Homo sapiens: one gene and its partners. The protein of the gene in region 2 interacts with the protein of the main gene of each other region in a pairwise test. Each region holds a gene or a part of one and is shown on either strand. Other genes may lie near its edges.

Region 1 (7,943 bases), on a different chromosome or scaffold from region 2:
GATGAAATATCATACTAACTATGCATGTATATGTGCCAGGTACTGTTTTAATTGCTATCTATGTCTTAATTCAGTGAATATACACAACACAACCTTAAGATGTAGGTATTACCTACATTTTTACAGGTTATATAATTTATCCTAGTAGAATCAGAATTGTAGTCTAAACAGTGTGGCTCCAAGAGTCTACAGTCTTAACTATAATGCTGTATGTAATTCCTTGCAGTAAGTAGACAGTAGTAGTGTTTTGTTATATTGTTATTAAATGCCCTTTCTTGACCAAATAAAAAATTGGCAAACCTATCTTGACTTCCCAATTTATCCAGGAATGGGCTGACAGAGCAGAAAAAGACAGGGTTTCAAAACTAAATCAAAGGATGTTTAGTGGCAGTAAAAATGTACCAGAATGTGAGATTGTGGTCACCAGTAAAATTGCTGAATTTAAGGTCTGAAAGCCAGAGTAAAGGGTCATTCATTGATGGTAAAGACGATAATGATAATAACCATTCATTGAGTATATTACAAAATTAATTGTATCTAGTCATAACCACTGGTATCACCATATCAAAGAGAAGAAAACTGAGGCCCTAATTAATTTTCAGTAAAAAGTTAAGTTTTTCATACAACTTGACAAGAGGACTCTGAAATTCATAGAGTAGTAACAAGGCCAGGCATTCACAATGCAATTTGAAGAAAACAGGTGGGGAAGCTTATCTTGCTAGATATTAACACTTACTTATATAGTTGTAGCAATTATGACAGTATGGTATTGTTATAGAGGTTATACAAATACAGCAATGGAAGAGAATAAGCAACCCAGGATGTGTGGAAACCTGATTTGAGATAAGTGACATTACAAACCACAAAAACAAGTTTAACTCTTCAATAAATGGTGCTAGAACATAGTTGTCTGTATGTAAAATAATAACAAATGAGAGTAGATCCCTTTCTCATGCACAAAAAGTAAGTACTGGGTTGAGTAAAGCCCTAATATGAAGAATATAAGTTTAAAACTTTTAGCAAAAACACAGGTGAATACCTTTGTGATTTAGGGGTAGAAAAAGATTTCTTAAACAAGACTCCCAGAACACAAATTGTAAAGAAAAAGATGAATAAATTTGACTACACCCAAACCAAATTTCAGTATAAAAACAGACATACACGGCCAGGCACGGTGGCTCACGCCTGTAATCCCAGCACTTTGGGAGGCAGAGGCAGGTGGATCATGAGGTCAGGAGTTCAAGACCAGCCTGGCAAATATGGTGAAACCTCGTCTCTACTAAAAATACAAAAATTAGCCGGGAGTGGTGGCGGGCGCCTGTAGTCCCAGCTACATGGAAGGCTGAGGCAGGAGGATCACTTGAACCTGGGAGGCAGAGGTTGTAGTGAGCTGAGATCGCGCCATTGCACTCCAGCCTGGGCAACAGAGACTCTGTCTCAACCAAAAAAAAAAAAAAAAAAGACATACACTAGGAGAAGATAAGCAACAGGAAAAGATAAGCAACCAATGTAACCAACAAGGTAATATTTTCCAGAAAACATGTACCAGTGAAACTGATGAACAAACCAATAGCACAGTGGGCAAAGATGTCAAGAGCAGACTAGTAGGCATTTGGAATTAGACTCCTAGAATTAAGATTAGCCTAAAGAAATCTGGGCTGGAAATAGAGATTTGGGCTATATCTTAACGATCATATTTGAATTTGGGGCACTGGATGACCTAATGGGAAAAAAACATGAAAGAAATAAAAGTCTTGGGCCTAGCTAGGACAGGCAGAAGATGAGTGATCCAAGCTCAAGTGCTTGAAAGTAAATAATGACTCCTTTAACTGTATTTACATATTTATCTTGAGTTTTCTGACCACAGTTTCTTTATGTCTTTTAAAGATGGAGTCTAAAAACACTATCGCATAAGGTGGTCAGATAAGCCTATTACATCTATTTAGAGCAATATTATCTTTAGACCATGTTTCATGTGCAGCCAAGAAGGCAGGGTTGTGGAAATGAAATACAAATATAAATGAAAACAGGATTTAAATTTTAAGTAAAGGGAATTTAAGAAAATATTCCTTTTAAGTGGATAATAAGGATTTTTAAATTGGTGGAGTTAGGAATTATCTCCTATTACACATTCGCATAGCTCATGTAATGCATCAGAATACCTAATATATGATCCACACCTTTTCTCTGAATTTCAAGGCCTCCCAAAAAAGTTTTATCCATATAGACTTGCATTCACTACATTTTTTCTACTTGAAAATAGCAAACCAGCTATTCACATAAACTGCTAAGAGGAAGTAAGCCAACCATAAAAAATTACATACTGTAAAATTACTTATATGTGAGGGTCAAAAACATGCACAGCAATACAGAATAGTAGTAATGGTGGTGGATGTGGTTGGAAGGGTCGCTTTTTAAAAACGCCTCTATTGAACATTCTGTATATTGATGTGGGTGGTGGTTACCTGGAACTGTACATTTGGCATTTGAGCATTTTACTATATCTTTAAATTGAGGTATGTATTTTTTAATTCTTTAAAGAAAAACTGCTTGGAGGTCTTATTCTTAATGCACAACAATCACAAACATTAAATTTATACAGTCCAGAGAATGTAAAGTTGCTTTAAAAAAATTCTTTCCTTTTCTCACTTTAAAATACCAAGGGGAAAAATTAAACTCAACACAGCACGTCTTGCCCTTGTCAAGATGACAGATCCTCTAAGAGAAGAAACGAATAGGTAATGGCCTTTTCCAGATTTTCTTTTCCTAATGTACCCCACTTCCAACCTACCCCTACCTCAACTAGGGTATCTAGTTGTACCCAAGGGTGCTTCTACATTAGATCCACAGAGATTAAAGATAACAGTTAACAGAATAGTCCAGAGGACAAGGATATTCAAGTTCCATCATCTTCAGGATAAAAAAGCTCCAGGGTTTACCTCCAAACTCTCTCTAAAGGAAATCCCATCAACCTTTTAAACATCACTTTGTATACACCATCTTCTATACTGCCCTAGCTCAAAAACATGAACCTGTATCTAAACGTGTTTGTAGAATTTCCATTGTAAGTTTTACTTTAACAATTTTGAACAATTATAATGATAGAAAATTATTTAATCTAGATTTTGGTCAACTCTATTACTGATATTCTTTTTTAGTGAAGGACAATCACAAACACTAAATTTATACAGTCCAGAGAATGAAAGATTGCTTTAAAAAATTCCTTCCTTTTCTCACTGTAAAATAAAAATACCAAGGGGAAAAATGGAAAGTATTTATTATAACTGGCTGTTACACTGTCATACACAATGAAATACTGGACCATTAGCAGTTCGTTATTATATGTTGTTAAGTGTAGAACTGTAAATAATGAGGCATATTATTAAGATATCACACACATTATCCAATCAGCAAGTGCACAACTTCGGACATTTTGACTTCAGCCAAAATATGAAACAAAGTCATAGCAAGAAAGTTATTTCAAGGGAGTGAAATTTTCTCCTCTTACCCTTCAAATCTTTTAGAGATATTAATAAAAACAACTATCCAGCCTGGGCGATATAATGGGACTCCATCTACATACACACAAAAATTTTTAAAATTCGTTGGGTGTGGCAGCACACGCCTGTAAACCCAGCTACTTGGAAGGCTGAGGCAGAAGGATCCCTTAAGCCGGAGTTAGAGTCTGCGGTGAGCTATGATCTGACCACTGCACTACAGCCTGGGCGATAGAGCGAAACCTTGTAACAACAACAACAACAACAAAATTAAAACCTTCAAGATCAAGCTTGCCCAACAGGATGGCTTTGAATGCCACTCAATGCAAATCTGTAAACTTTCTTAAAACTTTATGAAAAAAAATTTTTTTTTAGCTCATTAGCTACCATTAGTGTTAGTGTATTTATGTGTGGCCCAAGACAATTCTTCTTCCAGTGTGGCCTAGGGAAGCCATAAGGACCCCCTGCGCTAGACTTCAGCAGAAGCCTTGTAACATAAAGAAAACCATACATAAGGCTTTAGATTCTTTTTTTTTTTTTTTTTTGTGACGGAGTCTTGCTCTGTCTCCCAGGCTAGAGTGCAGTGGCACATTCTCGGCTCACTGCAACCTCCGCCTCCCTGGTTCAAGCGATTCTCCTGCCTCAGTCTCCCGAGTAGCTGGGACAGGCACCTGCCACCGCGCCCGGCTAATTTTTCTATTTTTAGTAGAGACGGGGTTTCACCATCTTGACCTGGCTGGCCTCGAACTCCTGACCTCGTGATCCACCCGCCTCGGCCTCCCTAAGTGCTGGGATTACAGACGTGAGCCACCGCGCCCGGCCAGCTTTGGATTCTTTTACCACTTTCCCGAAGGAAAAGGAACTGAAAATATCTAAGGAAGGACTACTACGAATCTTCTCTGAGTGGCAAAAACCAGAGGTTTTTGGAGCTAGGGCTGCAGTTAAGTTGCCAAGGGGCAGAGATGTAAACAGTTCCTGGTTTAGTTAAAATATTTTAATTTTTATTTTTTTAAGCCTGGCCTTTGGGTGAAGGAGTAAAATTAGGCACTGGGGTCTGGGTAGGGGGAGGATACTCATGGGCGAGTATGCAACCCTAGGGCCACAGCACCCAAACTGTAGGGGAAGAGGCGGGGCGAGAGGGGACGAAGTAGAGACAGCAAGAGACTCACTTTTGAAAGGCACTTTCGGTTAGAAAGCATTCTCACATGCTTATCTCATCGCACACAGTATCCTTTCTGCTGGTCTCCAGCATCTACAGACGTTAAAGGCCCAAGAGGAGGGCCACCTTCACACGAGATTCCGAGGAGGGCCTCGCTACCCGCCAGTTCCCGCGCCTCGGCAGTCCGCCGCGAGCGTACGTCACTCGCCCGCCGCCAATCGGCGCCCGGCAGGTCACCTCTCCTCCCAGGGCCCGCCGCCCCGCCCGCCGCCCAGGCCGAGGCCGCCAGTGCCCGCCGGCCGCTTCCGCTCCCGGCGCAGGCGCGGCAGCTTGGCCAGAGCGGAGGGGGCTCGGGAGAGGAGTGGACGCCGCTGGCCAGGATGGTGCTGGAGAGCGTGGCCCGTATCGTGAAGGTGCAGCTCCCTGCATATCTGAAGCGGCTCCCAGTCCCTGAAAGCATTACCGGGTTCGCTAGGCTCACAGGTAATCCTCCCCCATCAGCCAGTCCCCATCCTTGCACGTTCGCCAAGCGGGGGAAGGAGGCGTAAAAATCCTAGGGCCAAGGGGCGGGACGGAGCTCGGCGCCTGGCACGTGATCCCCGCGCGCAGAGGAAGGTGGGCGCGCGCCGACGCAGCTGCCTGGGGAACGCCTGTGAGGCAGTCTCCGGGTGCTTGATGCCCCAGGGTCTTTTGTCCTCGGAGTTGTCTCCGGTGTCATTCCGTGGCAAGATACCAGGTTTTTGCAGAGAAGGTGCTGAGTTGGGAACAGGCCAGTCTCTTTCATCTCCTGTCCTGCTCATCGCTCTCTGTAGCGTACTTGTTTATTTTAAAGCGGGCTAAGTCGTCGTTATCTAAGGCCTCATGTAACAGGCAGCCCCAGCTACCGGCTGGGTTGTACCCTCAGCATGTGGGTGGGAGTGTGTGGGAGAGAAATATAGACTTACACGTAACACGTATATGACCGTTTTATTTAGTAACGAAATTAGGAGATAACCTCCATTCCCTCAGGTTAGAATTGACCTATCATAGGTGGCATTTGAGGTCATCTCCGTTTCTACGGTCCCGGGGCCCGCTGCGGTAACTTAAGTTGGAAGAAAGATACCTTACCCAAGAAAGTATTCGAAGGCCGGTATGAGGAGTGAAATCTTAGAAAATGAAATTTAGTGAATATATGTAACGTTCTATACTTAAGGACCCTCACTTAACCCACACAACTCATGAGGATTTCACATCTAAAGGATGAAAATCTCCAGAATGCAGTCAACACTTGGGAGATTGTGTTGAGTTATGAGCATTTCATTGTAAGGGGGATATTTCTAAACGGAACTCAGACCGAGTAGGATGGTGAAGGAATCAGCAAGTATTGAACTCCTATGTCCTAGGTTATCAGGGAGTGCAAACATGAATTAAGATAATTCTGAGGTAAATAGGGTTGCTTCGCCGGGAACGTTCTAAAGATCTGTAGTACCTGACCTAAAATACAGCAATCGCACAGCTGTCTGGTAGAAGAAAAATAAGATTTGTGTAGACTAAAATATAGAACTGATAACAAATTAACCAAATTAGTGAAGGTTATTGGGAGGTGAATTTCAGTCTAAGGAAGATTTTTTTTTAAATTAAAGAATGCTTTCCCCAAACAAATGTGGTGCTTCAGTGATAGCCCCTCTCAAAGATGAAAAAAACAAACAAAAAGACTCTGGTGGTGGGTGGTCGATAGATTTAGAAGGGATAAACTAGATGACAAATTCTCTTCCAAATCTAGAGATTCATTGAATTATGGTCAGACAGACGCTCTGTTGAGTGGATTGTGAGATTTTAATATTTTTTAAATATTAAGAGTTTTAGTAGAAAACATGCAATTGAATAGAAAGCATGGTAACAATAATAAACATTAAAAAGGAACATTAAACATCAGAAGCAATGCAAAAGTAAAATAAAATGAAAAACGTTTCACATCAAGTGTTTATAAACATCAGATCTTTTGATCCTACCAGTTTACTCTGACAGAATTGCAGCAATTCCATAAAATTTTGGCTTTCCCCACTTCTTTTACTTAAGTACTTTACATATTTTAATATAATCCTCATTTTTTCCCTAACAACTAAATACTTATTTTAGTTTTAACATCACAATGGGCCTAACCATTCATTCCCTTACAACTGGAAATTAGAAATGTTTCTATTTTTTAAAATTCATTATGTAATAGTTCATTGGCAAGTAAGCAAATACCAGTTGTCATATTTCTCCCTTTTGGATGTCTTCACTTAAATAGCAATACCAGGCCAAAACGGTATGATCATATTGTGACTTTTGTACCCTTTTGTCATTTTGACATTTGTACCTTCTTACTAATTTGCATAAGTTAACTGTTGAGGAATTTTTAACAGTCAAGAAAGGAAAATGTCCAATGAATTACCTATGTTTTTTCCAGATGGTGGCTGCATTTGTATTAGTTTCGATTCTCTGTAAATCAAGTATAATTGAAGAAAATTAGAAAGTATGAAACTAGATTTAATGGCTAGATTTTAGAAGTATGCTTTCTTTTCTTGAGGATCCCTAGTGTCAACAAATATTTAATTCCTATTAAAGACATTAAGAAAACTCAACCAAAACCTTTTCTCTCTTAAGAATATATAGTAACTTCCTCTTAAAAGTTGTTAAATATTTAATATGAAGACTGATTCTCAGAAATAATGACCATTCTGAGAAGTATTTTAATAACATACATTTAACTTAAGTCCCATTACAGTGTGGCTATAGTTAATAGTTCTCATTTTATTGCTGGTTTATTTAGGAAACATGAACATGCTTGTAATAACTGGTTTATGAAAAACATGAGATAGCCCTTTTTGGATTGGACAAAACAATTGCAGGGTTTATTTTGGAGTACTATAGAAGAAAAATTTCAGTGGCTATTTTCCACTCTCGGTCTCCCATTCTGAATAGATTGTAACAGTTAATGACATTTGGCTTTCTTAAATGAGTTACTTGTAGAATCCATAATGTACACTTTTGTTAAAATAAAAACCTGGAAGACAACTTTTTAGCAATTGTTTAAAATGTCTAGGAGACCAAAAAATATTTCCATTTTCTTCTATGAAAATTAGAGCAAAAAACAATACAGTTCACATTATTATTGCCTACATTTCCTTCCCTATTTAAATCTAGCTGTTTTTTAAAGCTATTGACTCTCTTATGATGACTCTGCATTCTTAGAAACCACATGGAGATCTTTAATGACCATATACTAGTTAAATACAGGCAGTTCTCACCTATCAGAAACAACT
Region 2 (5,406 bases):
TTGATTATTTATTACCTCAGATAAAAGTTCAGTCAATCCTCATTACCCATTTCTAAAAGTAGACACAACTACATTTAGGAATATTGCTTCAAACATAGCATATATATCTGATGTTGATATATTGCTTTTTTCATGTTTTCTCTTACAGTTCTTATAGTCATGAAATACCGTACTTGATTTGATGACAGAGATCTTCATTAAACAAGATCTGGGACAGTAATAAAAGATTGCTGCATAATTTAAATGAAACCTATGTGTATATAACTTTCAAAACTTCTTTTTCAAGAAACTAAGAGGCAAGTATCACTTCAAATTGGAACGTTGAGAATGTCCAATTATCTTCTCCCTTTCTAACAAAATGTTCTTTTAATAATTATGTTTAAGGCAAAGAGAACTAGCCTCTATTTTTCCATATTTCAAGGATCTAATTTGAAACTAGATACTTGCCAGTTCATTATTTGTGTATATAAACACTGATTATAATATTTCATATTAATATTTTAATGGCATAAGGACTTGCATTATTGCATTAGGGAGCGGGTCATGCTGGGGGTCAGGAAGCCTGTGTAGAGTACCAAATTATATGCTGAAAGAGATGCATAACCATTCTGTCAATATTTGCAGAAATATAGTTCCTTTCATATTACAGTTGTTTTGCAAGCAATTTCCACATTTATAGGTGTAACAAAAGCTAAATGTTGTAAATGTTGTTGCCCTCAGGTATAACTAAAAACATTCCAGTAAATATATTTTTGACTGTGTAAGAGAATGTGTAGTAATTTTTTTGGCATTGGATTATGGAAATGGAAATTTTTAAACAGTGTGAAAAAACATGGTATGGCATCATAAAACTGGAGATAATAAAGTTATTGAAGAGTGTCATTGGAGTATTTGAAAATGACCAATATATAGCTGCCAGTCATGGTCCAGTCTGTTTTCTGTTAAACTCCAATAAAGAGAGACCAGTCAGTCCTAATGTGAGTAAATGAAATTTACAGGTAACTTACTTACTCCTTAATTTTATTTTAGTTAATAGCCTCTAACTTCCAACTATCTCATTTACCAAAAGTACAAAAAGTAGCAAAACCATCTATTAATACTTTGAATTTTATATCTTTGCATTTCCTGTTCATCCTTGAGGAGATGTATGTTGCACAATCAAATTTTGCATCAGCCAACAGTAATGAGTAGTAGAAAGTCAGGAACCTATGTGTATATATATATATATATATATATATATATATATATATATATATACACACAAACACACACACACACACACACACACACGCACACATATGATAATCAGTCAGTCGGTAACCAAATGCTAGAGAGTGACCATTAACCTAAGCCTGTTTTTATAATGAAAAAATGTGTTAACTTTAAAATATGCCAACCTCCTTGTGTCTTTTAAACAAGTCAGAGTGAAAATACATTGTCCCCTAAGGTGTGGGGAGAGGAAGCTTTATAATAAAATTAGTGATTCTGCAGAAACTTGTGCACTGGATATCTTGACAATATGAATATAAAACTCCCTAAATTAAAAATAGGGTTAATAGAAATTATCAGTATTTAAATAGGGAAAAATGATTTTATGTTTATTTTATTTAGGTTTTATTTCTTTGGTCATCTTAATGCAAAATGAATAAAGCATAGAATCTGGGTTTGGTGTTTTTTTGTCTGTTTTTAAAATTCTACAGGATTATTACTAGGAGGCAAAAAATGCTGTTTAGAATGGAAAAAATTTGAAGAGAGAAAGCAGACTGAGACACTCAAGACACCTGCAAGTTATCTAAGAAGATCTAAATAGAATTACTAAATTTTATAGTTTGCTTAGAGCATTTAGAAGGAGATAAAGGTCTTACATACTATAGTGTATATTGTCTTTGGTCTCTATGCTCTTTGTAAATGTCAATTAATATAAACAGCATCTGAACAGCTAATAAATCTTTTAAGTTAAGATACCCAGAAAAATGAGCATTTTTAGAATTTCAGTAGCTAATAATTCAGGAATGGAAATATTTTAACTGAATGGACAGAATCAGTCCTAACATTTGTATGTATGTCCTTTATTTGAATTGGAACTAGGCTCATAAGTGGTTAATTTTCCATTAGTTGATGTAGAAATCTGGTTTCTCCATAATATCTACAAGTGAAGATGAAGATTACTTCTCAAAAAGTATCCATATTTCCAGTGTTCCTTTTAATAAAATATGCCACTTTTAAATAAATAATTACAAAATGTAAAATTATAAAATTTTTAAATTTAAATAATAAGTAACAGTAAAATTTTTTGACAATATATATGTCACTGTCTTTGTAATTTAAACATATTGCTGCCTGGGATATGGGTAACAGAATTATCACTCATGGAACTTTGTAGTAGTGATGGCTTGGTTTGTAATTCATCATTTCATCTTTCTTGGTCTTGATTAATCCTGAAATCCTTAAAATGGCTGGCATGGTTATGACTTTATTGTGGTAACCTTGGAGATATAAGCCCTCTTACGATCAAAAACAGAAGAAAAAAATATATTGTTCAAACTGATGCCAGGCCTACCTTTATTCCCTCCCTTAATTACTTTTTTTCTCATTCAGCTCAGATCATCCTGCACTTGAAAAATGAAGTTTTACCACCATCAAAACTATCATTATTTAACAACAAGTGAAGATCAACAGAAAAATTCAAGTAGCTTTGCAAATACTAGTTGATACTCAGTGAAATCACGTCACTATTTTGATGCCTGAATCCATACCTTTGTGATTTATGTTTAATTACAGAAGCCTATTGCCTTGCAGCAATTTTGTTGTTATAATACTGATTAATTGGTTACTCCTTCTTATTATAACTCAGTAATACCTGTGGTCATTTGGTTCCTCTATCCTGACAAAGTTCACTGGAAATTGCCCTCAGATTTTATAAACTGGGGGATTTCTTAATTAGATAAAAGTTCATTACTGAAGATGGAATATTATATAAGATGGAGGAAGGGTAATTAATAGACATGAGATATAGAAATACTTTGTTAGCCCTGCTATAGATTGCCTATTGTAGTCTTTCTGTGCATTTCAATAGTCTGTATTAGGAAATTATAACTTCAGCACTTTTGATAGCAAAAATTGGCATCTTTCAATTCTGTATAGTATGTGACTATCCTGTAAATGATAATATGTGTACAGACTGAGAAGGCAGGAATATAAAGTAATTGAAATCTCTCATTGCCGGTATACTCTAAAACATGCTTGATGCCTTGTCAGCATCATTGCACACATTGACTCTGTATTTACATCTGTATATACACTATGATTAGAAAATATGCAAGAAATTGTTTTTCCATGTTAAGAACAAATGCCATTAGAAGATGTCCCCTTAATTGTATTGTCAGAGTATTACTATGTCAAGGATGACTGTTCTGTTAACCTAATTTTGTGTTTTCACATGGAAATGTGATTGGACTCCATTTTTCTGTGAGTTGAGAGTAAGAGCATAAGTCAGTTTGAAAGCATTTACAAGTTTGTTTTAGAATGTAGTAAGGGCTGAAAGGTGCTCTACTTCTTAACTTGTTTTTTCCATGTTGTAGACAAATGAAATTTGTCTAAATGCTTTTGTCTAAAAATGCATTTGTCTAAATGCTTTAGATTGATGTAGGGTTTAGATCCTCTTTAATACTTTGAGATAGTCTTATTCTGATTTTTTTTTTCTTCTGGAAACCAAGTAGAATTAGGGATGGGAATACAAATGCATTTATTCTGGCTTCTGTTTTATTCCAAGAAGCTTCTTGGAACAAATCAGTAGGAATTGAAAAGAAAGCATGACCAACCCAATTACAGGGGATAAATGTAAGCTTGTTAAAGTAAGCACCACACCATGTTTCTGTCTCCCCAGCACCCAGCACAGTGCTGTGAACCTTGGCAGATGCTAGATAAATGTGTGTTGAATGAATGTGCCTATGAAGCCACAAAGATGCCACATGTTAGTATATCAGTGAGAGGTGACTCCACAGTGCTCTCTGGAGAAGCAATATGAGTGACTGAAGAGTGGGGCCTTTTGCTTTTGCCTGGATATAGGGGTGCTCTTCTACTGTAATTGGGTGTGGAAAAACTCTGGCTTTATGGTATTCCATTAGGTTCTTTTCATTTAAAGTAGTCTTAAAATCAAAGTATCCAATATTTTAAAGCCACAAAGTAGATTACATAATTAGCAGAGATTTTAGTCAGTAAAATGTTAGAAATCAAACTATAAGAAAATTCAAGTCCTTTATTTTGTGTCTTGGGTATATGTCATTATTTTAAATTCCACACTCCCTTATTTAATCACTTTGGTAAGTGCCTTTGATGTTTTGAAATGTATAGTGGGAGATGAGCAAATGTAAATGTCATGTGCCCTGTTCCCTAGCTTCTCAATTCCTCATAACCATTTTTACCAGTGTTGCAAAGTTTAGACCTTTGTGTTAATATCAGAAGTGTATTTGTAGCCCCTCCATAGTGAACAATGAAATAAACTATTTCATAGAAAACAAAAATTAAGCACTTTGGCTTATTCAATATGTGTTACCTGTTGCCTTAACTTCAAAGCATAGCTTATTTAACAATAACATCTGGATAATCACCCCTGATTTAATCTATCCTATTTTCCCAATAAAGTGCATGGAGGAAAAATAAGAAAAAGAAAAGGCATTCTTTCACCAAAAATTATGCCTGATACTGACAAAATCTAAGAAGAATTTCTTAGTGATTTTTAACTCAGTAAAGCAATGTCTTTACCTCAGTCCACAGTGTCTGTAGGAGAGGAAGGCAGGCAGTTTTCTCTTAAACTTACATGTCCCAATCAGAAAACCTGATCCTGTCCCTCAGCTGCCTGGTGCTTTAGGCAACCAGAGTAATGTTCATTCTCTCTAGCCTCCCTCCACCCACACACTAAACTGTGTCTTTTTGTTTTTGTTTCTGAGACAGGATCTTGTTCTGTCTCCCAGGCTGAAGTGCAGTGGTGCGATCACAACTCACTGCAGTCTCAGACTGCTGGGCTCAAGCAATCCTTCCACCTCAGTTCTCCCAAGTGGCTGGGACTACAGGCATGTACCACCATGCCCAGCTAATTTTTAAATTTTTTTTATAGACGGGGTCTTACTGTGTTACCCAGACTGGTCTCAAATTCCTAGACTCATGCTATCCTGCCTCAGCGTCCCAAAGTGCTACGATTACAGGTGTGAACCACCATACCAGGCCTTTATTGTCTTAATACTACAAAAAGCCATGGGAGGGGAGATGACATTGGAGGCACGTTGTACCCTGAGATAGTCTTCACAAATAAAGTGCTGTTGTTAGAAATGGAGACAGGAAGCAACCTGGTAAGGGCACTCTGAGAATGATGGTGTTTAATACAATCCACCATTCAACAGATGAGAG
Region 3 (7,985 bases), about 120 Mb from region 2:
CTATAAGTCCTAGGCTCAAGCAGTCCTCCTGCCTCAACCTCCCAAAATGCTGGGACAACAGGCGTGCACCACTGTGTCTGGCCTGTTATTGCTTATTGAGGACTTACCATGTGCCGAGCCTTATTCTAAGCACTATGGAGATAGCAGTGATAGGGGACGTCCCTGCTCTTGTAGAACTGTACTTTAATTCTCCTTTAATTCTCCCCTGCTTACAAAATAATAAAAGAAGGCTTTACTGAGGACCTCCTGGGTGCCCTGCTGTGCAGCTTGCCCTGGTCCTTGCCCTCTGCAGCTTGTTATTGCACTTAGAAGGCAAGGCATGGACATGCCTGAAGGGGTGTGGGAGCTACTGACGTGCCCAGGCCACAGGTACCTCAGAGAAAGGGGCAGGAGCAGGTGTGATTCATCCCTGTGACCCCAGGGCCCAGCCCAGAGCCAGGCACGTGGTGGGGGCTTTTGTTTTTTTTGTTTTTTTTGTTTTTTTTTTGAGGCGGAGTCTTGCTCTATTGCCCAGGCTGAAGTGCAGTTGCATGATCTCAACTCACTGCAACCTCTGCCTTCTGGGTTCAAGCGATTCTCCTGCCTCAGCCTCCCGAGTAGCTGGGATGACAGGCGCCCGCCACCATGCCTGGCTAATTTTTGTATTTTTAGTAGAGACGGGTTTCACCATGTTGGCCAGGCTGGTCTTGAACTCCTGACCTCAGGTGATCCGCCCACCTTGGCCTCCCGAAGTGCTGGGATTACAGGTGTGAGCCACCACACCGGCCTGGGGCTTTGTGAACACTCTGTGAATATGCCGACCTGGGGGTCCAGGAGGCAAGAGAAGGCCCCCAGTATGGGTCAGTCCAGGTTATTTCCAATCCATTCACATTTCTGATGCAGTGTCCTCAGAAGCAGAATGGGATTTCCACAGGCAGGTAAGGGGAGGGTGCAAAGAGAGGGCATTCCAGGCAGAGGGCGTGGCAGGAGTAAAGGCCCAGTGGTTGCAGGTGGGGGAGCACAAATGGCCTGGGGTGGTGGGACTCCAAGATGGATGTGTATTGGGAGGGGAGACAATAGCAGGAGAGGCAGCATAAATCTAAAACCTGTCATCCCTACAGCCCTAGTTGGTGGCTCCTTGGCCATCAGCAAACAGGGTAAACTCAGGTAACCAGGGAGGCAGCGTGACTCTGGGCAGGGAGAGGTGTCCTGATCAGCCAAGCAGCTCCTCAAATATTTGTGCAGCACAGACCATGCACAAGGTGGGGCCATGGGAGAACCCGCAGAACCAAGGCTCCTGCCCAGGTGAAGCTGTTGCACTTCAAAGCCAGAAAGCCCTTAGGTGCCAGTCCTCTCCCTGTACCGATGAGGAAAAGGAGGTGATTCTTTCCACAACCCCGCCCATCATGAGTCAGGACTTAGAAATAAACAAACACCAGCTCGGAGCAACAAAAGCCCTGGGGCTTTGTAACCAGAGAGACCTCAGTTCACATTTGAACCCTGGCCCTCCAACCTCCCTGCTGTGTGACCTTGGCCTGGTTACTCAACCTCTCTTAGTTTCAGCTGTCTCATCTGTTATTGCCCCATAACAGGGCCCCTGTCTCAGAGCTGTCCTGAGGATTAAAGAGATCATGCAGTGCCAGGCACCTAACTGGGGATGGATTCTTTATAGCTGGTATTTTAATCTACCTCTCTGAGTGTGTTTCGTCATTGATCAAATGTGGGCCAAGCCAGGGCATATGCAAAGCTCAGTACATGTGTGTTTCTTCCTTCTTCTATTTTCAGAAGGGTAAAGAGGACTGTCCTGGTCACACCATGGGCCAGTGGCACATAGTAGGGCTAAATAAATGTGTCACTTTATCCATCAGAGTTAAAGAGAATTGCCCAGGTCACCCACTGAGTCAAGAATTTGACGCTGGTGCTCTTTTCTCTGTGTTACAGGTGGGCACTGTATGCAGTTTGGTGCCTGTGAGGTAGGCAGCACACAGTAGGTGCTTAATGAATGCATGTGCATGGAGAGAATGAATAACCCTATTAAGCAAGTGACTGTCAGCATGGCTGGCCAGGAAGCTGGGAGCAGACAACGTTAACATGGAGGCAGAGGTCTGAGGGACAGTGGGAGCCTTGAACCCTCCTCATGTCTCTATCGCCAACTGCCAGCTTCAAGGGAGCCCCACAGGGCACTGGCCCCAGGCCCTCCAGTTCTTTACCTTCCCCTCCAGGGTGGGCTTTGGATTCAGCAGCAGTGTAGCCATTCTCTCCCTGCCCAAGAGAACAGAGTGAGGGGTGGGCTTAGGTGAGGTGAGCTCCAGCCTCAGGGAGGCAGACAACAGGGTTTTCAGAGGGGTCACTGAGAGAGTCTTAGGTAGAACCACGGGTCCGTCACACCCCAGCATCTCACGCCCCAGATGCATCATGCCCGCTTCATATGTCCACACCTTTGCCTGCACTGTGCCCTCTGCCTGGAAAGCCTTTTTCTCTGCTGTCCACCTGATAAATATTCATCCTTCAAACCGGCTTGGGCAGCGACTCCTGGGTGAGGCTTTCCCTGATACCCTCCTCCCCAGTAAAACTGGCCGCTCTTCCCTCCTGTCCACCTGGCTCCTCTGTTTCCATACCAGCACTTGCCACCTGGACTGTATTGCTGGGTCATTGGTAGGGTCCCCTACACCCTGGGAGTGAGCCCCGGGGCAGGACGGGGGCTGATTTTCCTCCGTGTCTCCCATGTATGCCCACTCTCTACTGCCCACTCCTCATCCCAAGGTTTGCTCTCCCAAGATCAGGAGCCTGGTCAGGGCGGCTCTTACCTGGGGACAGCTCTTACTTGGAGACAACTCTTACCTGGGGACAGCTCTCACCTGGGGACAGCTCTCACTTGGGGACAGCTCTTACTTGGAGACAACTCTCACCTGGGGACAGCTCTCACCTGGGGGAAGACCTTGTTCATGTCTTCGGTTTCCTGCTGCCCGACTGGGGCTGTGTGCAGAGAGCTCAGCACGGGTTCCCTGCATTGTCACCAAGGCCAACCTGGAGGAGGGACAAGCAGGAGGCCTTGCCCGGGCCACACCCTCCCTGTGGGCAGGCCCCTGTCAGCTGCCTTCCAAGCAGAGGCAAAGGCAGGAGGGCCCCTCTCCGGCCAGGCTATTCCCTCATCTGCCATCTGACAGCAACATTGCGAGGCTGGAATCCTCATCCCTATTCCACAGATGAAGAGCCAGAGGTTCAGAGAGGGAGAAACTGCCCCAAGTCTCACAGTGCATGGGAGGAGTGAAACCCAGAAACTTTTCAGAAAGTGCATTTTCCTCCACATCAGAGATGGAACCGGAGGAGCTCAGGTTCCAGGGGTATGAAGATGCAGGCAGAAACTCCCAGAATTGACGTTTCGGTGGCTAGAAAGTAGGGGTCATTTTCTCATTGATGTTCTTCTGTTCAACTACATAGGTGACCTAGATTGAAAGAATATGCATTTTCCACTAAAATTATAAAGCAAATATAATTTTAAATTGTTTCATTTAGAAACGTGGCAATGTGAATTTTTACTGCCCCTGAGGTGGTGCTGAGGTAGGGAAGAGGCGGGGGGCTGGTTGCTTGCGTGAACAACCCCTTCTATGTCCCCAGTGAGTGGGTTTCCCTAGCAGCCTGTCCCACTGCTGAGTAAACCAAGGCCCTGGAATCTTGAGGGACAGGTCCAAGGACCCGGACCAAGGGAGGAGAGGTGTCTACCTCCAGAAATGAGCTCAGGAGTTCTTGCACCTGCCTCTGATGCCCATAGATTTTCCAACCTGCAATCAGCCTTTTCTTTTGCATTGGGAAATAAAATGATGAATCCACGTGGGTGCAAGTAGGAGGCACAGACACAGGGGCAGCCCTTGGGAGGCAGCAAGTAACATTGTGAAGAGCTGAGCCCTAGGCCGGGAGAACAGGACTCTCATTAGGGCCCTACCACTGGCTCTGACGGGTGACTCACTCCCCTTCCCTGCGCCTCAGTTCCTTCATCCAGAAAATAAAGATATAAGCTAGATGAAGGGGGTGTTTTAGTTTAAGGTTCCCCAGAATCAGACTCTAAGACAAGATTTGAGGGCAAGTAGAGTTAATTGGGAGTGATCCCAGGAAATGCTGGTCGGGGGGTGAGGGAAATGAGACATGGAAGAGAAGGATCCGATAACAGTCGTGTTATGAAGCAGGTTTCCGCTGTGGGCAAGTGGAATTTAGCCCTGCTGGGGCACTCGGGGAAGCTAGGGGAGAAGATGCCCCTCAGAGTTATCCCACTCAAGGTGAGGGGAACTGGGGTAATAATCTGCCAGCTCCTGCCAGTCTTGGTTGAGAATGGCCAGAGGAGGCCAGGCATGGTGGCTCATGCCTGTAATCCCAGCACTTTGGGAGGCCGAGGCAGGTGGATCACCTGAGATCAGGAGTTCAAGACCAGCCTGGCCAACATAGTGAAACCCCGTCTTTACTAAAAATACAAAAAATTAGCCGGGCATGGTGGCAGGCGCCTGTCATCCCAGCTACTCAGGAGGCTGAGGCAGGAGAATTGCTTGAACCTGGGAGGCAGAAGTTGCAGTGAGCCAAGATTGCGCCATTGCACTCCAGCCTGGGCAATAAGAGCGAAACTTCGTCTCAAAAAAAAAGAGACTAGCCAGAGGGTGTTAATTCCTTGTACCACTGGGCTGCCTTAGGCAAGGAGATGTCAGTGATGGCAACTTAGCAGCTGCACGCTAAGCTAATATGTCCTGAAATGGAAAGCGCTGATAGCATGGGCAGGGCACCCATGGTCCCTACTAAAGACACTAACTAGATTTTATCTGGCATGTCAGCTGCAATTGATTGCAAAAGGCTCTCTGGAACATGGGCCTCAGAAGGATTCTGAGGTCAGAACTGTGATTGACTAGTGATGCCTGCCATGGGTGTAAGAGTGGAGAGGGGTATCAGACATGATGGCTTTCACTCGCATCCGTGTGAAGAGACCACCAAACAGGATTTATGTGAGCAATAAAGCTGTTTATTTCACCTGGGTGCAGGTGGGCTGAGTCCGAAAAGAGTCAGCGAAGGGAGATAAGGGTGGGGCCGTTTTATAGGATTTGGGTAGATAAAGGAAAATTACAGTCAAAGGGGGGTTGTTCTCTGGCGGGCAGAGTGGGGGTCACAAGGTGCTCAGTAGGGGAGCTTTTGAGCCAGGATGAGCCAGGAGAAGGAATTTCACAAGACAGTGTCATCAGTTAAGGCAGGAACCGGTCATCTGGATGTATACGTGCAGGTCACAGGGGATATGATGGCTTAGCTTGGGCTCAGAGGCCTGACAATGACCATTTGCCATTCCTGGACATATTAATGCCCTTCAGCCTCTGGCCTTCCTTGACTCCGTGATTCTTAAGTGTTCCTTTATAAAAAGACTCCCCGGGGCTTTGAAATGCCCTTTCATCTGCTGAGTCCAGGTACAGCCACATACAACTATGCTGAAAGCACTGCGTCTCTCCAGGGCTCAGGCTGTCACCAAGAACCCTTGAGGGAAGGGCAGCAGGGGGCCTGGTGACATGAAGGACAGGCCCTGGTGCCTCAATCCTTGAACTTCCTGGAATCATATCCCCTGCAATTCACAGTCTCACTCTCAAGGGGAGGGCATGGATGGAAGGGAGGCAGATATTATTTATTGAGCAGCTACTATGCTCCAGGCACTACACCAGCCACCTTACACACGCCCTCTCCCTTGATCCTCACAACAACTCTGAAAGATAGGTAATATTATTACACCCACTAGACAGATGCAGAAACTGGGTTCAGAGAGGTTAAGTAACTTGCCAAAGCCACACAGTGGGTAAACAGCAGAGCAGAGATTTTAACCCAGGTCAGTTTTGCCTCCAAGCAGAGTTGATTCACACTCCCTCCCTTGTGGATGAGAATTTCTGTTGATCACATCTCTGTCAACACTTAGTACCATCAGACTTTTTGATTTCCTCCAGCCTGACAACTGTGAAATACCATCAGTGGCTCGCCGCCTTTAGGATTTGCAGTCCTCTTTTGCTTAACCTCAGATGTGTCTCATTCTAAAGCAGGGAGATGCTGGGCACTGTGGCTTGCACCTGTAATCCCAGGACTTTGGGAGGCCAAAGTGGGTGGATCGGTTGATATCAGGAGTTCGAGACCAGCCTGGCCAACATGGTGAAACCCTGTCTCTACTAAAAATATAAAAATTAGCCAGGCACGGTGGCCCACGCCTGTAATCCCAGCTACTTGGGAGGCTGAAATGGGAGAATCGCTTGAACGAACGGAAGGCAGAGGTTGCAGTAAGCCGAGATCGTGCCACTGCGCTCCAGCCTGGGTGACAGAGTGAGACTCTGTCTCAAAATAAATAAATAAATAAATAAAGCAGGGAGAATGGTGAGTGGTGGATGGAGAGTTCTAGCAGCAGCTTAAGGCGGTGCCCATATTATGAGGGTTAGAGGAGGAAATTGGAAAGAGTGGAAAACAGGGCTGCCAGAGTCCCTCAGGGAAACTCAGAACTTTGATCAGCAGAGTCAAAGGGACCTCAGGCTCAGAGAGAACAACGGCCTCACTTTACAGAAGGGGGATCTAAAGTCCGGAAAGAAGAGGGGACTTGTGCAAGGCCATACCGTGGTCAGTGTCCCAGTACAGCGAGCACTCCTTCCACAGCAGCAGATGGCCTCAGGGACATTGGCACGTGCAGCCTCAATTTTTTTTTTTTTTGAGACAGAGTCTTACTCTGTTGCCCAGGCTGGAGTGCAGTGGCGCGATCTCCGCTCACTGCCATCTCTGCCTCCTGGGTTCACGCCATTCTCCTGCCTCAGCTTCCCAAGTAGCTGGGACTACAGGTGCCTGCCACCACGCCCGGCTAATTTTTTGTATTTTTAGTAGAGACAGGGTTTCACTGTGTTAGCCAGGATGGTCTCGATCTCCTGACCTCGTGATTTGCCCACCTCGGCCTCCCAAAGTGCTGGGATTACAGGTGTGAGCCACCGTGCCCAGCCCAGCCTCAATTATTTTCAGCCTCACTGTCTCTCTTGCCTAGGGTACAGGCCCCAGGCTGCCAACCTCACGTGTCCCAGCAGTTGCTCCTGAAGGGCACTGTTCAGATGCTTGGCCCACGTTGTCCCCTCCTTCTCTACTGTCTGCTCTCTTTCTGGTTAGTTAGAACTGATGGCAGGGGCTTTCACTGCCTGTTCTTGTCCTAGCGGAAGGCAGTTGTTGGGATAGTTATATCATGAACACTAATGGCTTGGGCTGTAGTAAACAACCTCCACCTCCACCCTGCTGGGCCCTTGGCCTTGACTAGGACTCCTGGGCCAGGGCTGGGTAAACTTCTAGCAAGAGCACAAGTTTTGGAGCTGATAGTCCAAATGGTCTCACCACTAGCTGAGTGATCTTGGCTGGGTCACTTAACCTCTCTGAGCTGAGCTCAGATTGAGGCTGGGCTGGGCACGGTGGCTCACGCCTGTAATCCCAGCACTTTGGAAGGCCGAGGTGGGCGGATCACAAGGTCAGGAGATCGAGACCATCCTGGCTAACACATTGAAACCCCGTCTGGACTAAAAAAATACAAAAAATTAGCCAGGCATGGTGGCGGGCACCTGTAGTCCCAGCTACTCGAGAGGCTGTGGCAGGAGAATGGCATGAACTCGGGAACTGAAATCGCGCCACTGCACTCCAGCCTGGGCGACAGAGCAAGACTCCGTCTCAAAAAAAAAAAAAAAAGAAATACGGAAAGGTAGGAAGAATAATGTAACAAATAATCACGAATCCGAGTTAACAAGTGTTAACATGTAATCAGTTTTGCTTCACATTTTTTTCTGTTAAGTACAGCACAATTGAGGGCCTCTGTTTTTTTCCCCAGTTGTATTTCTTCTCCTCCCTTTCCAGAGTTGATCAGTTTCCTGAGTATGGCATGTATTCTTTGGTAACTGGTTTGTATATTTTTAACATATGGGTATATATGCATGAAAAATACGTAGTGCTGCCTTTATGGCTTTTTAAAAACATTGATAAAATTT

What was found.
Region 1: the proteins of VAMP4 (region 2) and CISD2 interact in binary tests that used the Homo sapiens proteins (3 or more experiments, as listed by UniProt).
Region 3: the proteins of VAMP4 (region 2) and LDLRAD1 interact in binary tests that used the Homo sapiens proteins (3 or more experiments, as listed by UniProt).

Annotation. Positions count from the first base shown.
Region 1 is NC_000004.12:102,864,049-102,871,991, forward strand, and holds the start of CISD2 (CDGSH iron-sulfur domain-containing protein 2), read left to right. Parts: upstream 1-4,943; 5' UTR 4,944-5,036; coding exon 5,037-5,139; intron 5,140-7,943. Other genes in the region: UBE2D3 (ubiquitin-conjugating enzyme E2 D3), read right to left, coding at 4,667-4,696. UniProt on the Homo sapiens protein: Regulator of autophagy that contributes to antagonize BECN1-mediated cellular autophagy at the endoplasmic reticulum.
Region 2 is NC_000001.11:171,699,277-171,704,682, reverse strand, and holds the end of VAMP4 (vesicle-associated membrane protein 4), read left to right. Parts: intron 1-148; coding exon 149-177; 3' UTR 178-4,523; downstream 4,524-5,406. UniProt on the Homo sapiens protein: Involved in the pathway that functions to remove an inhibitor (probably synaptotagmin-4) of calcium-triggered exocytosis during the maturation of secretory granules.
Region 3 is NC_000001.11:54,015,187-54,023,171, forward strand, and holds the start of LDLRAD1 (low-density lipoprotein receptor class A domain-containing protein 1), read right to left. Parts: upstream 3,001-7,985; 5' UTR 2,991-3,000; coding exon of another isoform or gene 2,927-2,990; coding exon 2,906-2,926; intron 2,242-2,905; coding exon 2,190-2,241; intron 1-2,189.